Regions from separate parts of the Homo sapiens genome. Here region 2 is linked to region 1. The links come from fine-mapping of genetic effects on gene expression. Tissue or cell type: cerebellar hemisphere. Region 1 holds a variant in brackets; the other region holds the start of a gene. All regions are shown on one strand. Distances are between the middles of the regions.

The links. PIP is the estimated chance that this variant, and not a neighbour inherited with it, causes the effect.
Region 2: it holds the start of COL13A1, and the variant in region 1 is fine-mapped to the expression of COL13A1 in cerebellar hemisphere (GTEx, PIP above 0.99).

The regions. Positions count from the first base shown.
Region 1 is chr10:69,907,355-69,910,111 of GRCh38, reverse strand. The region is part of intron 17 of COL13A1 (collagen type XIII alpha 1 chain); the gene reads right to left. Among named protein-coding and RNA genes, the nearest start is that of LINC02636, 100 kb to the left of the region's middle. The variant C/T (reference allele first, on the strand shown) is at 1,193.
Region 2 is chr10:69,800,388-69,802,887 of GRCh38, reverse strand. COL13A1 (collagen type XIII alpha 1 chain) reads right to left here and starts at 982. Exons shown (of 41, transcript NM_001368882.1): 1 at 171-982. The coding sequence starts at 464. LOC124902444 (a long non-coding RNA gene) reads left to right here and starts at 1,117. Exons shown (of 2, transcript XR_007062179.1): 1 at 1,117-1,842.

The DNA.
Region 1 (2,757 bases):
ATCCCAAAGAAACCATTAGTAGGTGGAGGTTGGGAGGGTTGGTCTGTGCAGTTAGCTTAGCCTGGGGTGAGTCCCCTGAGCAGATATTCAACTTCTGCACCAGGGTGCAAAGACAGACTGGCCACAGGGCTTGATGAGGCCTGGTTTCAAATTCCAGCATGGCTGTTTACTAGCTGTGCAACCTTGGGCAAAGTCTCTCTCATTTAGACAATCAGGATGAGTTCTAACCACTGAGCCATGGTAAGAACTGAATAAGGTGGAATAAATGAACTTTCTAAACTAGAGATGTGAAATATTGCTGCACTGCCCAAAGATGAAAAATCACTTCATCTCAAGATTCAGAGGGGAAATAAACTTCTGCCTGATCATGGTGATCACTGGGGGTCAAGATATCTGCTGTCCCAGTGAGGCTGGGGCAGTGGGATAGGCATTTATAGCCTCCCAAGGAATGACCTCAAGTCCTTCGTGGCAGGCTGCCTGCTGCTGGTCATAGTTCCCAGTGCCAGCCCTCTGACCTTTGGTGGACTTGGAGGCAGTGGAGAGTTAGTGGCAAGATAAGGGTCCCAGCAGAGTAAAGGCCAGAACAGAGGAAAGGGTGCCCAGACCAGCCATGGGCTGTTGGCTTTGCAAGGCTAGTGGCTCCAGTGGCACCTACTGAAAAGACTCAGTGACAGGTTGGGAGCAGTGGAAGCAATGGGAACCTTCCAGTGACCCAGAGAGGCGGTGATGGGGCATGATGGCCTCACAGCCCCTCCAGATTCCATGAGAAGAGGCTACCGGAGAAGAGCAGAGAGGGTGGTCTGGCAGAGACAGAAGGGTTGGGAGGCAAGAGTCCAGCATGAAGGGGAAGGGTCTTCTCCTCAGTGCCTCATGAGACCTAGGAGTGGGGATGCTTCTGACAAGCCCTGGATGTGGATGGAGAAAAGACATGGACGAAGGTTCAAAGAGACAGAGCCTCCTCTCAAGGCCAGGGATCAAGGCTCAGAGCTGCTCCTCTCTTAAGGCTATGGAGCCAACTCTGTCCCCATGAAGCTATGACTTCCCTGAGCTGGAAGGGATTTTCAGTGTCCCAGCTGATACAGAGACTTCTCTAAACACATCCCAGACCAGTCATTATCCAGCCTCTAATTGAACACCTCTGGTGACCAGAACTCCCTCCCTCCCTCCCAAGGCATCTGGCGATTAGGAAGCT[C/T]CCTCTTCTGGAGCTGGAATTACTCTTCTTGTAGAGTTTATTCATTGGCACTTGCTCTACTTCTAGTCATGCAAAAGAAAGTATGATCCTTCTTCCACACTAGAGCAGGGAGGCTCTGAGCAAATCTCCCGCTTCCTGGGGACCGGAAGTGCTCCCCCATCAGGAGGGCTACACTGGTCTTCTCTGCAAATTCAATGTAGCCTGGGTTACATGTTTCTTCCTACAATCTGAGTCTAGGATTGCCACTGTCCTGGGACCAGGCCCTCTAGCGTCAGGACACCCTAACCCCAAGCAGAGGATTCTCCGTACTCAGGACAGCAGACCCCATGCCCCTTCTGGATGAATCACTCTTCCAGTTTGCAGCAGAATGCAGACACCTGTCATGGTATGATGCCAGCCAAGGGCATCGCCGTGATGCCTGGAGACCCTCTGCTGCCCTGCAACTCCTTCACAGCTTGAAAGAGCTGGCCCTGCTGCTAATGAAAAACTGATCCCGCGTTGCACCAGGAGGCAGTAAATTTTATGAGTCTGTGTGAGTGGATAGAGGCAACTGCGGGGGCTGATTTCCACTTCCTGATACAATACAAATGTCTTAGTTTATGTAGAACTAATTAAAGATCTCTCAGGTCTTGCCATTTCATTCACCAGGCACCCATAAAGCCATGTGGTTATGGCAACCTCATGACTGCAGTGTGCGAGGAATGTGCTTTGGAGGGAGTGCTTCTTCCCTTCCCAACATTTCTGCCCCTCTCCTGCTGCTGCCTTTCCTTCCTGCCTCTTTTCTCCTCCTGGAAGGCTCTAGCAGCTTCCCAGCCAGGGTCTGGAGGGCAGGGTTGCACTCCTTACAGCAGGTGGTACCATGGGAAGGACCCAGACCTGGAACTGAACTCCTGCTCTGCCACTTATGAGCCAGGAGACTTTGGAGAGCTCCAGTGCTATGGTTTGAATGTGTCCCCCATAGCTCTTGTGTTGGAAACTTAATCCCCAATGCAACAGTGTTGAGAGGTGGGACCTTTAAGAGGTGATTAGATTATGATAGCTCTGCCCTCATGAATAAATTAATGTTGCTGTCGCGGGAGTGGGATAGTTATCACGGGTTAGTTATTGTGGGAGTGAATTAGTTATTGTAAGAGTGGGTTAGTTATTGTGGGAGTGGGTTAGTTATCATGGGTGTGGGTTTGTGATTGCAGGAGTGGGTTAGTTATCATGGGAGTGGTTTAGTTATTGTGAGAGTGGGTTAGTTATTGTGGGGGTGGGTTAGTCATCATGAGAGTGGGTTAGTTATTGTGGGAGTGGGTTAGTTATCATGGAAGTGGGTTAGTTATTGTGGGAGTGGGTTAGTTATCATGGAAGTGGGTTAGTTATTGTGGGAGTGGGTGTGTGATTGCGACAGTGGGTTTGTTATAACAGCAAGCCCAGCCTTCTCTTGCTCGTGTTCTCTCGCCCTCTCCTGCCCTTCCACTGTCCACCATGGGATGACACAAGAAGGTCCTCACCAGATATGGGCCCCTTGACTGTCGGCTTCCCAGCCTTCAAAATGGTAAGAAATAAATTTCTTGTCTTTA
Region 2 (2,500 bases), 110 kb after region 1:
ATCCCTGGTAGGGCAGCGTCTGTCCGTGTCCCCGACCCCTCCCGCAGGCAACTCGCGCGAACCTGGGGCTCGCAGAGAGCGAGCGCCCGCGGACACCGGCTGAACAGTCTGGAGGCTGCGCGAGGGGGCGCCGCGGGGAGGGATAAAAGCCAGCAACAAAGAGCACAGACCTCGTCCAGCAGTTGATTGACTCGTCCCAAAATAGCCGTCTCCATTTGCTGCTCCCCGCGCTCCGCTTCCAGGCGCAGCACCCGGGCCTGCAGCTCGGCCGTCCGAAAGTGGGCGAGCAGGCTGAGTGCCAGCGAGCAGAGGGCCAGCGTCAGCAGCCCGCACGACCCTGGACTCGGCAGCCGTGCGCCGCGCTCCGCCCGCGCCGCCACCAGAGCCACCGTCCCGGGCGCGCCCAACTCCCCAGGGCCGCGGGCACCGGTGGCTGCCGCTTTGTGGGTGCGCTCCGCTACCATCCTCTCGCGTCTTGAGAACCAATAAATAAATAAATAGAATAAATAAAGGCGACAGCCGCTGCCAAAAGGCTCTATCCAAACTGCGGGGCAGGGGGAAAGGGCTTGTATCGCTGGAAAACGTCCCTTTCCGCTGCTCCCGGCAAAGAGGACGGAAAAATTAGCAGTAGGAGAGGAAGTGCCGAAAAAGCACAACCAGCGGTAATTGGGGTACACCTAGGTGAGAAAAAAGTTATTTCGAAGAACGTTCCAAGTCCAGGAAAGTTAGGGGAATCTGACCGGCTCTCCTTCTCTCCGCCCAGTCTTTCCCTTCAAGTGTCTGCAGAGCAGTTGGTGCCGCGCTGTCAGTCCTTCTGGGCGCCTCGTGTCTCCCGGGCCAGTCAGTTTCAGTCCCCGGGCGAAGGGGCGCACACGGAGGGCCCCATGGGCAGAGGTGGGTCGTGGCGGCTGGCGAGGAGCGCAGGGGCCGATTCCGGCGCCTCTGTAACTTGACACACTCCCTGCGGCGGCACGGATCGGATGAGCAATCCGTGCTACTTCCCAAACTAATCTCTCCCTCCCCCCTCCCTCCTCCTCCTCCTCCTCGTCACTCCTCCTCCACCTCCCGCGGGGCCGACGGCTTGGATTTGTTTATTTATGCAAACTCGCCCAGGGTGGGGGGCGTGGTGAGCAGGTCCGGCGGCCCCAGCCCGCCGGCCCGGGAGCCCCTCTGCCGCGCTCCCCGTCCTCTTTGAAGTGACACTTGGGGTTATTTATAGGCAGGAAGGGGGTGTGGAGTGGAGCTGGCGCTGCACTTCCCTCTCTTTCTCCGGATTCACACCGAGGGCTCGTTTGGCCTTCCACGGAGGCGGTGAGGCGGGCACCACCTTCCATGGACGCGTTGGGGCAGGCACCACTCCACCTTTCCCAGCCCTTGAGACCCTCCAGGAACTCGACTGAGTTATTGTCAGGGCTTGTGGGTGGATCTCCACGTCCTGATCAGGACTACCTGATCCCTTCAGCCACCGCTCCTCTACTCCCAAGCCCCCAACCTCTTTCCCCTTCCTTCTCCCCCGACAACCGACTCCCCGGGGGCTCTGTACCTCCTGAGATCTGCAGCTCCTCCAGTGCCGGGCGGCCAACCACATCTTTACTCTGGGGTGAAAAGTCAGCCCTCCAGGGGGCAGCAGAGCTGGCAGCCCTTCCTCTCAGGACCAAGACCTGAGGTAGTATGAGACACTGAAAACGGAGGAGATCTTATTCCAGGTATCTGAGAGGTGGCTCATTGGGGCCGCCTGCCAGTCCTGACATCTCCCCTTCTTGCCTGCCATTAATCTGAGACCCATGCCATCTATCCCTGTGTGGTGAGACCAGCCTGCCTCAATCATCCCAGTCATCAAAGGTGAGCAATTCCTACACAAACTCAGGTTCCATCCCTGCGGGAGGCTTAGGGCTAACCAGGCTCTCTCCTGTTGTCATTTCCTATATTCCACTAGAGAAAAACTGGTGGCCTGAAGGGCATTTGGTAGTTTTCTCTCTTCTCTTGTCACCTCCTCCACCCCCCACATTAAGTAGCATTTGTATCCCAAGAGACTTTATCTCCTTGTGCCTGTTGACATTCCTGTGAATGAGGTGGTGGGACTGAGTTTTTGGGAGAAAGCCTGTCTTCCTGGAACAGCGGGCAGAGGAGAGTAGACTGGGTTTTCAAATATGCAGTGGAGGTGGGGGCAGCAGTGGTGCTGGGATTCCATTTCAAAATAACAAGGCATGCCAGTACAAACTTCCCATTTTCTATATTGACCTGATGGAACTTGATATATAATACAGTGTCACTGCACTTCTAATAAAGTGTGGCACACTTAATAGTGCATATTGGACTTGTAACATAGTAAGTACTGAGATCATATGTAATAAAGGTAACATTGACTGCTGGGCCAGTCAGCCACTATGGAGGACAACAGGAATAGAAGGCGATGCTGCTGAAAGAGCCCGTGGCCAGGAGCTCTGGGTTCCAGTTCCAGTTCTAGGATTCTCCTGATGGCTTCAGTGGCAAGGGCACT